3 linked regions of the Homo sapiens genome follow. The protein of the gene in region 1 purifies or fractionates together with the protein of each later gene. This does not show direct contact. Each region holds a gene or a part of one and is shown on either strand. Other genes may lie near its edges.

Evidence for each region.
Region 2: the proteins of LYPD2 (region 1) and CARS2 purify together in Homo sapiens (affinity purification with mass spectrometry; one large-scale study listed by BioGRID and IntAct). This does not show direct contact.
Region 3: the proteins of LYPD2 (region 1) and LONP2 purify together in Homo sapiens (affinity purification with mass spectrometry; one large-scale study listed by BioGRID and IntAct). This does not show direct contact.

Annotation. Positions count from the first base shown.
Region 1 is NC_000008.11:142,749,733-142,753,800, forward strand, and holds LYPD2 (ly6/PLAUR domain-containing protein 2 precursor), read right to left. Parts: upstream 2,801-4,068; 5' UTR 2,720-2,800; coding exon 2,662-2,719; intron 1,439-2,661; coding exon 1,319-1,438; intron 751-1,318; coding exon 551-750; 3' UTR 418-550; downstream 1-417.
Region 2 is NC_000013.11:110,664,617-110,668,116, forward strand, and holds part of CARS2 (probable cysteine--tRNA ligase, mitochondrial), read right to left. Parts: intron 2,858-3,500; coding exon 2,724-2,857; intron 2,313-2,723; coding exon of another isoform or gene 2,155-2,312; exon of another isoform or gene 912-2,154; intron 1-911. UniProt on the Homo sapiens protein: Mitochondrial cysteine-specific aminoacyl-tRNA synthetase that catalyzes the ATP-dependent ligation of cysteine to tRNA(Cys). In addition to its role as an aminoacyl-tRNA synthetase, has also cysteine persulfide synthase activity.
Region 3 is NC_000016.10:48,345,300-48,348,799, reverse strand, and holds part of LONP2 (lon protease homolog 2, peroxisomal), read right to left. Parts: exon of another isoform or gene 1,889-3,500; intron 1,294-1,888; coding exon 1,086-1,293; intron 701-1,085; coding exon 510-700; intron 1-509. UniProt on the Homo sapiens protein: ATP-dependent serine protease that mediates the selective degradation of misfolded and unassembled polypeptides in the peroxisomal matrix.

The sequences.
Region 1 (4,068 bases):
TCTCCTCCTCAAAGCAGCCTCCGCCATCAGCCTTGGGGCAAGGCCCTGCTCAGGCTGGGGAGGTGGGTAGTGGGGTGCTCCAGAGGACAACCCCAGCTCCTGGTCACTGCCTTGACCTTCCTTCCACCTGACATGCCTTGCCCTCCTCAAGGCCTGCCAGATCTCTCCATCCTTCAAGGCTTGGCCCTAATGCCCCCTCCTCCAAGGAGATGGCCCTGACTTCACCCTGGTAGATGTGGTGCTCCCTTGCCGAAGGGTCTCAGCTGCTGCCCCACCCTGGTCAGGCCCCCACATCCCCTGAGGGCAGAGATCTGCATGGTTTGTGTGGGGGTCCCAGGCCCAGTGGCTGTTCTCACGATGGGATAGAGCTTAACATCACAGGAAGGCAGGAAGAGAGACAGACACACAGGAACGGGGACATCGACGAGGTCAGAGATGCAGCAGGGCAGGTCTGTGCCCAGAAAGGAGACTCAGGAGTCCTGGTGCAGGGGGCACTTCTTCAAGGCATTCGGGGCTGGGCCGCATAGGGCCATGGGGGTGGGCGGGGACTCTACAGTCGGAGGCTCAAGAGTGGGAGGAGCGTGAGGGCCCCGCAGTGGAGGCTGTTCAGAGCGGGCGCCCCGTCTACATTGCACAGCTCAGTATTGCAGCAGGACACGGGCAGGGTCTGGCCGATGCCATCCACATCCGAGGGCTTACACTTGCTGGCACAGGACTTGGTCACCGTGGAGTCCCCCTGGAAGGGGTACACTGTGGGGTGTGGGAAGAGTCAGCCGTCAGGGCTGGTCACTGCCTCCAAGCCCTGGTCCCTGCCAGTACCACCTCATGCAGGCCCCACTCTGGGGTCACCCACCCGGGTCTCCGTCCCTCCTGGCCCAGTGCCCTCCTCTTCCTCTCTCCTCCCACCGACGTTGTCCGGGTGTCTACCATGTGCCAGGCACCCGGCCTGATGGGGCAGTTCCCGCCCCGAGGTGACTGTTGAAACCAAAGCCTGTAAGTGTGCCCAGCTTCTCCAGTCCCCCCAAAACGAGGTTGCAGATATGTTCCCACCGAAGGACATGAGGGAGAGAGGAAGGAAGGGGAGGGCAGAGGGAGGCCTAGCTCGGGCAGAAAGCCATTTCTGGAGATGGGTGAGGTGGTGGCTGTGCACTGGGGCCAAGCTGGCTGGTGGTGACTGGGCTGGAGGTGGCTCTGACCGGGAACCCAGCCCTGCCCGCCTTCCGTGCTCACTGCCCTATCTCCTGGGAGTAGAGTGTGACTGGGCTGGAGGTGGCTCTGACCGGGAACCCGGCCCTGCCCGCCTTCTGTGCCCACTGACCTATCTCCCGGGAGTAGAGTGTGGTCTTGCACATGGTTTCGTTGGTGGTGCAGGTGGCGATGGTGACACAGTCCGACACTCCTGTGGGCTCCGGACAGACGTAGCAGCGCAGGGCCGGCGCTGGGGAGAAGGGACAAGGGCGGTCAGGCAGGCTCCACCCCTCCCAAGCCCAGAGACAGTCTGTCCTGGAAGCCCAGGTCTGAAGAGGACAGTGACACTGGCCAGGGTAGAGATGCCTACCAGCCAAAACTCAGGAGCAATGCCAGGAGCCTGCAGCTGGGGACAGGCCGGGCTCAGCCTCGGAACCTTGCATCCCAGAGGCAGAGTCGGCTGCTGGGGGTGGGGATCCAGCCTGCAAGGCCTGGGAGGAGCCAAGCCAAGCCCCTTTGGAAGTGTTTGGGAGACTCAGGGGGACCAAGGCCCTGGCATCTTCATAGCAAGAGGCACCTCGGGCAGGAAGCCTTGGGTGGGGGCGTGGCTGGGGGCAGGTTACCCCCTCAGTTTCCCCATCAGGGAAGTGCTGCTGTGGAGGTCAAGGGATCAGGCCAGGAGGCCCATGGAATGCAGGGTGTGCCAGGCTGCATCCGGGCTGTGTCTGGGTGCCCACTCCTCTCCCACAGGGACTTGCAGACCGGCAGGGACGGGGACCGGAGAGGCTCCAATTCCCTCCTGCTCCGGTGACCCCGGCCCCAACCGCAGCAGCCCAGGTGGGTCTGGCTGGTTCCAGCTGGCCAGGGCAGCCAGCTGCACAGCTAGGCCCGACTCCTCTGTCCCCACTGTGGGGATGCAGCGGGGCCTCTGCCCCTCTCTGGTGCACCTGTTTCTGGGAAATGGGCAAAGCCATCTGCCAGGGGCCTCTGGGCCAAGCTGCTTCTGGTTGAGTCCAGGACATTGCCCCTGATGGTTGTTTCAGGCTCCACATCAGGGAGTCACCCCACCCCATGTGTCTGGTTTCCCCACTCCTCTCCATCTCTACTGCCACCCCAGCCTCAGAGCCTCCCTGGGGTTGCCTTCCTTCCCCCGCTCAAGGCCCTTCTGGGTGCCCATAGCCCCCCATAAAGTGTGACACCCAGGCTGGTGCTCAGGGGTGTGGCTGGCTGGGCCCCCGCCCACCTCGAAGGCCACCCTCTGCTCACCCTCATTAGGCGTCCCCCTCACCGCCAGCCCCTCTCTCCGTTTCCACCCTCCCCTCCTTATGGCGGGGGGGCCACACCCCCGGCCCCACAGCTCTGGCTTCTCCTGCCTCTGAGGCCCCTTCCTGGGGCGCCCTCCCGGGAACAGTGTGAATGTCAGTGGGTGGCATCTCCCTCCGTCCCAGCTCCCCTGTGGGTCCCACACCTCACCCAGCTCTCCGCAGGCAGCCAGCACCAGCGCCAGGAGCGCCAGCCGCGTCCCCCGCATGGTCCCGGCCCACTCCTCTGTGCTCTCACCCCAGGCTTGCCTGGCGGGGACAGCAGACACCAAGTGAGGTGGCGACAGACTGGTCTGCTGAGCGGATTAGTGGGGTAGAGTTTCCCCAGGGTGGAGGTGTGAAGACCCCGCCCCTCCAGGGGCTCCCCAGCCTTCCAGGCTGCTCCTCCCACTCCCAGCCTGGCCCTCTAGGCCCACCCCACCCAACTGGGACCCTCCCTGTCCCTTCCTCATTCCTCCAGTATCAGGCCGGTCCCCTCCCTGCCCTTTCCTGACCCCTCCAGCTCCCCGCCTCCGCCACCATGGCCTGGGGCCGCCCCTTCTTCCCTTTGTGGGGACCCTCCTTGACTCCTACACACCCTGTGCTCGGCTCTTCTCCCCACCCCCCTCATCCAGGAGAGCCCCCACTGGCTCACCCCAGGCAGCCCAGGGACCCCCCAGACTGCCTGGAAGGGGGCAGGGGAGTGTTACGGGCCACTCTCTGCTGCTGGCTCCTCAGGGATCCCTCCTGCCTCAGGTCATCTGTGTTCCAAGGCAGATCTGTGTGCTGGATCTTCCAAGATTCTGGGCTGGAATCTTTCCAGGAGGACCTTGGTCCCACCTCCGAGCTCCTTTGAGTGGTCAGGCTGGGTGTTGGGGGCCTGGGAGTGAACTGCCACCCGGACAGCCAGCTACAGGGTGTGCTCAGAGGCTTAAGGAGACAAATGCCAAAAACTACTGGGTCAGCAGAGAAGGTCCTGGATAGAGAGTGGGGTGGGGAGGAGCTGGGGTCTCTTGGGGGTGCTAATCCCATGCCCCCAGCCACCTGCCAGCTGGGTACCTTCATCTCTAACCTTCTGATAAAGCTGCCCTCAGGCAGGGCTTACCACCTCCTTGCAGGTAAGGAAATTGAGGGAAAGTTCCTTACCCGGGGCTCAGACAGGGGACAGTGATTTTGGGTTGGGATGCCTCAGACCATCTCCTGCTCAGCTCCCAGCTCCCCCCAAGGACATCCCCCCAGACTGCCTGCTCCAGCCTCCCCAGGTTGTGTCTGGTCTGTGATCCTGCCACCCCCTGCTCCCAGTCCTGCAGCTGCCAGTGTGTAGGGTGTGGGGGTTGGGGGAGGGATGTGTGACAAGCAGCCTGTGTCTTCCTGGGCCCTGGCGGTCAAGGCCATGATCTCAGCTAAGCCCAGACTCACACTGGAGCTCTTCAGCCTGAGCACCCAAATCCCACCTCATCCTGGTCTTTGCTCCTGCTGTTCCCACTGCCAGGAATGCCCTTCCCTCTTCTGTCCCAGTGTTTGAAATTCTGTCTTTGGTCGACCGCACTCTCCTGCCCGCACCCCCTCCCTGCCATGG
Region 2 (3,500 bases), on another chromosome or scaffold:
CACCAAGCACGATTCTGATTTTTTAAAATTGATGATAGTTGGAAAATAAAACACATTTGCTAAGGCCTGAATGTTTATGTCCTCCCAAATTCCTGTCAAAATCCTCAGCCCTCAGGTGACGGTAACTGAAGGCAGGGCCTGTGGGAGGTGATGAGGTCACAGGGGCAGAGCCAGTGTGAATGGAATCAGTGCTCTCATAACAGAGGCCCCTCGAGAGCTGACGGCCGTCTACAAATGGGAAGCAGGCCCTCCCGAGACACCGAGTCTGCCAGTGCGCTGACGCAGGACTCCCAGCCAGCAGAACTGTGAGGAATTCATTGCTGTTGTTCATAACACGCCCGCTTTCAGTTTGGCTATAGCAGCCCTAACAGGCTGGGATAGTGTCTGCCCACTTAGCTCTTCCATCCACTGGGTACAGGAGAACAGGTGTCACTTCTCCTGCGTCAGGAGACACTGATGTTTTGTTTGGGGCCAAACTAGTATGAAAAAGATCGCTGGTATCTTAACAGGTAGTAAAAAATCACTGAAAAATAGCCACAAAACTTTCCCACCACGTGCAGTGGCTCACGCCTATAATCCCAGCACTTTGGGAGGCAGAGGTGGCAGATCACTTGAGGTCAGGGGTTTGAGCCCAGCCTGGCCAACATGGTGAAACCCTGCTTCTACTAAAAATACAAAAATTAGCTGGGTATGGTGGTATGCACCTGTAGTCGCAGCTACTAGAACAGCTGAGGCAGGAGAATTGCTTGAACCCAGGAGGCAGAGGTTGCGGTGAGCTCAGATAGTGCCACTGCACTCCCAGGCTGGGGGACGGAGCGAAATTGTTTCAACAACAACAGCAAATGCTTTCCCATTCCCACATCGGAAGGTGAACACGACCTCCGTTTCTAGACCCGGCCCCTCCTCATTACCTGACAGGACGAAGCGTTGGCACAGCTAAGGCTGCCCTTCTTGCCCCCCAGCTCCACACTCGCAGAAGGGCTCACAGCAGGTCATGGTTGTCAGTAACAAACCCTGACCTACTGAACAGGATAAACCTGCAGACAGAAACGTGCCTGCGGAGGGAGCAACTCCAGCTCCTCAGACAGTTCAGGGAGCGCTGAACTGAGCCCTGAACGAAGTCAACGAGGAAGTGACTTCGGGGCAATCAGCCTCATCTATTTACTTTCATGAAGAAACCCAAGTGAACCCTGCTGCGGACCAGAAAACCGGAGCACTTCTGCATTTAATGTCACCTTACTGTGACATCTTAATTTCCCAATTCAAGGGTTTCAAAAACTAGTATTTGTTAATTTCCTGTATTTCAGATGTCAAAGTTTGCATCTCCAAATCTATCACTACCAAACACTCTTTATCTTTCTTCATCTGGGACAAGGGACACGACTACCTCTGTGCCTGAGACACAGTGTCTCAGCCCCACTATCTGGGCTCCCAGCACGCTTCCTCTCCAAGAACACAATTCAGAAGTCCTTGGGCCACGGAAGAGAGACCTCCTTCCCCATGGTCAAAAGTGGAGTGCAGGCCCCCGGCTGTGGAAATCAGTGCTCGGCTCCCTGAGGGGCGATGCCTTAAATATTCCACCACTGGGCAGCGTGCACCCCCTTCCCATGTGAGCGCCAGCTGAAACGGAAGTGAGGGCGGCAGGCGTTTGTTCTGATTAGAAACTCCACCGACACCGGAATAAAGTGGATTTCAGCTAGTGCTGAGCCCTCCCCAGGGAAATGGTATGGGGTGCTGGACAACAGCTCCTAAGTCCTCAAACAGCCACGCAGCCAGCTTTGTTTCTGCTTCATTTTTAGACAAAAACTGGGGCACTGTGAGAGGCAGACATAGTAGGTAATGGTAGGGGCAGAGCCGCCTGCTGGGTTCCCCGACTCAACAGGGTAAGCCCGGGGTGAAGGACATGCTGCAGGAAGTGACTTCGGGGCAATCAGCCTCATGTACTTTCACGAAGAAACCCAAGTGAACTCTGCTGCGGACCAGAAAACCAGAGCACTTCTGCACTTAATGTCACTTTACTGTGACATCCTAATTTCCCAATTCAAGGACTTCAAAAGATAGTATTTGTTAATTTTCTGTATTTTAGATGTCGAAGTTTGCATCTCCAAATCCTATCACTACCAAACACTCTTTATCTTTCTTCATCTCAAATACCTTAGCTGTCCATCCCCAAAAGGTAATAAGACTAGTTAATCGTGACCCTGTAAACTTGGAAATACGACTCTTCCAGTGCATCCAAGTGAATTCCAAAACTGCTGGGTTCGAGGTGTTGCTTAACTCATGGTGTTGCATCCACTTCTGAGAGCAGACAGCTGGGGTTCATCAGTTAGGTGTTTGAACAGTGGAAGAAAGGGCAATGTTATTAGAAGATGGCAGAGATGTCTAGTGACAACATTATAGCTTCAGAAAGGATGTTCATAATTATCGTTACATTGTACTACTTCAAGTTCCTTCTTAATAGTTTTACTTGAAAGAAACCTTATATAGAACAGCATTGCCAAACATTTTCCATATTCTAGTCAGTTCCAAAAAGGTATAATCATTGCTGCAATCCAAGGAAGCTCATGTTCAAATGATTGAAACTCAAAAATAATTTAAGAGGCAAATCCATTTCTTGACCTATTAGCTGATCTACTATGTATTTCCAAATGTAGCTGTTCCGCCGACAAAGACAGAACTGCTAGAATTGAAACAGAACAAATTAATCTGAAGTTATTACTTACCAGAATGCAGAAAATAATTTCCCCACTGCTCGCACTGATGAAAGACTTCGCACTGTGCAATTTCGTTTTCATGATGTGGAAAAGCTAAATCTATCCCACCTGAATGGATATCCAGTTGACTTCCAAATACCATACTGCAAGACACAGTGCAAAGTAGTGAATTCATTCAATCAAGCAACATATTTTCTTCTAACCTCGTCTATTTATTCCTTCCAGCCTTTTTAATTCAATGAATAAATGGATCTCAGTTTTGCATCAATTTGCATGATAATTTAACTGATTCAAATGAAAACTGAAATCCTGTCATCACAAGCCCGTAATTCATGACTTTTCATCCTAGTAAAGGCACTTAATTCTTTTTGCTCCAGGTTCTTTTTTTCTCTTTTTCTTTCTTTCTTTTTCAACTCAAAAAATTACCTTTACTTACTTTCAATAGGTAGAGTTTAGTGGTTTTCCAATTTTAACAAGAGATGGAACTATAAAATCATGACAGTGTTTCATTTGGCTTTTGCAAGTGTAACTAACAGTCACCTACGAATAACAAGGTAAGAGAGTTCAAAGCAACACAGGTTGCCATTTCTCCTACAGTGCTGTGCCATGCCTCCATAAAAACCGCGTTTCTGCAAACCCATACAAAAAAATTAATGGGGTTGATGGGGGAAATGAGGCTGGGCCAGCCCACTCGAAGCTCTGTCCCTGGACCAGCTGCAGAAGCATGGCGACGCAGCAGGCCGGTGGATTTTCTTAAAATGATAGATAGAGAAATTTCTAAGGTGC
Region 3 (3,500 bases), on another chromosome or scaffold:
AACGTGGGCTGAATGTGGTGGCTCACGCCTGTAATCCCAGCACTTTGGGAGGTGGAGATGAGAGGACTGCATGAGACCTGGAGTTTGAGACAAGCCTGGACAACACAGAGAGACCCTGTCTCTACGCAAAATAAAATAAATTAGCTGAGCATGGTGGCGTGCTCCTATAGTCCCAGCTATTCGGGAGATAGACAGGAGGATCGCTTGAGCCCAGGACTTGGTGGCTATAGTGAGCTACAGTCACACCACTGCACTCCAGCCTGGGCAACAGAGTGAGACCTGTCTATTTCAAAAAAAAAAAAAAAAAAAAAAGGAAAATGTGAAAAATTGTCAGTTTTTCTTTTATTTGATCAAAATTTTAAAATATGAATTAGTTACAGGCATAAAAATATAATATATACTTAAAACCAAGGTTTTCATAGAAAGAAGGCAAACCCGTATTTAAAAATAATATTAATTTTCAAAAATTAAATAAAAAATAACCATATAAATTGTTTTTTCATACTTACTGGAAGAACAAGACCTCTCAGTGTAATTTCTCCAGTCATGGCTACATCTGAACGTACCAGCCGCCCACTAAAAAGTGAGGCGAGACAGGTTACTATGGTAACTCCAGCAGATGGTCCATCTTTTGTGACAGCTCCAGCTGGGAAGTGCAGATGGATGTCTGTGTTGTCAAGAAGATCAAAACTTCCAAAAGCTTTAAAAAGGAAAAAGGGACTTTAATGTAGAAAAATTAAACCTGTTTTCTTTTTCTCCTAAAAAAAAAGTCACAAACAAAAATGAATGTTTTGGGTAAATGAATTCTTCAAAATATTGGTGGACAGTACAATTTGGGTGAGGGTGTGGAAGAACAGTTCCATTCTACTCTAAGTCGTATTAAAACAAAATAAACCTTTTGAATTAGTTTCTAGTTCAGGCACTAGTCAAATAGTCCTGAAATGGGAACTAGGATTTCCACAGGGGTTCAAAACGGTGTGTACTTTGCTAGATGTGTAACTGGCAGTCTCGAGCTCATGCCAGTCTCCGCCATGGAAGGTACCGCCTCCTGGGTCACGCCTGCCTGGCCGGGTGCAGGCTCCTACCATTGGTCAGCTGGTACTTCTTTGCGTTGCTGCGGAGCCAGCTGATAGCGAGGTGGGCGGACTCCTTCATCACGTCCCCGAGCTGGCCGGTCAGAGTTAACTGGCCCTCGCCATCCATTCGACTCGCCTCCACGAACATGATTTCTCCACCTAAGGGAGTCCAAGCCAAACCTATTGCTACTCCTGGCTGACTCAAACGCTGAGATACCTTGAAAGAAGAAGAATGATCAGAGTTGGGTTGGCAAATGCTAAAGGTGACTGATACCACACAATCCTGCAAGAGTCGGCTGACTCCACAGAAGACTTCAGCCACTTACCTCAAAGTCCTTGTTACCTAACATGATTCTGCGTCACATTCAGCACTTACTCTCTGGCTTTCTGCCAGAAGAAAGACCTAAACTTCCTCTTTGACATTTATCAGAGGCAATTTTACCTTAAAATATATGTAAATAACTTTGCTTTTTATGAGCCAGATCTAGCTACACATGCCCTAGTTTTCAAGGAATAAACCCAATAGTTTTATCTAAGTATCTTTATTGGGCTGCAAATATATATATATTTTGAGACAGTCTCACTCCATTGCCCAGGCTTGAAGTACAGTGACACAATTTCAGCTCACTGAAAACTCTGCCTCCTGGCTTCAAGTGATTCTCCTGCCTCTGCCTCCCAAGTGGCTGGTACTATGGGCGCACACAGGCCACCACACCCGCTAATTTTTGTATTTTTTGTAGAGATGTGGTCTCACCATGTTGGCCAGACTGGTCTCAAACTCCTGACCTCAAGTGATCTGCCTGCCTCAGCCTCCCAAAGTGCTGGGATTACAGGTGTGAGCCACCACACCCAGCCTATTGGGCTGCATATTTATATATACTTCATAACCTAGCTTCATTTTAGGTAATCATGAATTTGTTTCAAAAAGTAGAAACCCTCTTACTAGCAGACCTTTAAGAAGAGTGAGCTTGGCCATGCAGAGTGGCTCATGCCTGTAATCCTAGCACTTTGGGAGGCTGAGACGACAGGATCGCTTGAGCCCAGGAGTTCGATAGAGACCAGTGTGGGCAACATGGTGAGACCCTCTTATTTTTTTTGAAAAGAAAAGTGAGAAGGGTTATATTAGAAACTCTAGATTTTACTTCTCCACCGCTTACCTTTAACTTTCTCTATTACTGCTGCAGAGACTATACAATACTACATAATAAACATCCTGGGTTCCTTCCCATGGGATGAGAGAGGTCCACTGTACTGCCTGCCATCTTAAATTGAACATGTTGTCACCTGAGACTAGGAGCATAGTTGATGGGCCATAGGTTAACACATCCAAGTTATGAAAACACTAAAAAGTAACAGTGGAAAATCAGTAATGTTAACTCTCATTACACCCTTTGAGCTTCAAAATTTCCTATCCAATAGAAGTTACTCATGTTAGAGGAACTGAACACAATAGGTCAACTAAGCACTAATCCAAACAGGAGATTTTTCTACTGAGAGTTGACCGTCTCACTAAGGAACAGCACTATACAGCTTGACTTTCTGGGTATGGGGCTGGGTTGCTTCTTTTTCTAAGGGGCTTGGACAATGAAATTCCTGATTGTAAAAATTATTCCAAAATTATGTGGCATCCATTGAAGCTATTGGGCACTTCTTTTCCTCTTTTTTTTTTTTTTTTTTTTGAGACATGAGTCTCACTCTGTCGCCTGGGCTGGAGTGCAATGGCACAATCTTGGCTCAATGCAACCTCCGCCTCCTGGGTTCAAGCAGTTCTCCTGCCTCAGGCTCCGAGTAGCTGGGATTACAGGCATGTATCACCACACCCAGCTAATTTTTGTATTTTTAATAGAGACAGTGTTTCGCCATGTTGGCCAGGCTGGTCTCAAACTCCTGACTTCAGGTGATCTGCCAGCCTCGGCCTCCCAAAGTGCTGGGATTACAGGCGTGAGCCTCTGCGTCTGGCCGAGCACTTATTTTCAGTAGTAAACATACATTAAAAAAAATTAATCCTAATTAACTTCATTTAACAGGTTAGAGATTTGAGAGGCCAAACTCCAGCATCAAGCTGACAGCATGTACCTCAGGTCACACTTTCCTCGAGCTTTGCCACTTGCCCTGTTCTATACTAACTTGAGGCGAAAGACACAAACGATCTATATGTAAGAGATCAGTACTACTTAAGGAAAATCATGAAACAGTTATTTATAAAACTGTTTACAAGGTTTGTTTTTTCTAATATAAAATCAATTCTCTATACCTGAATGACATACATCTAATTTGTGTGGGAATCTGTCACCCAAATTAGACTTCATTCAGGCTCCTTTCTAGGGTTGGGTGAATGAATCGTGTTTAACACAAAAAGTCATTTGGTACAATTTTGTTAACTCTACCAAGAATAATCCCTTTCTTATATTTGAATCCTCACAA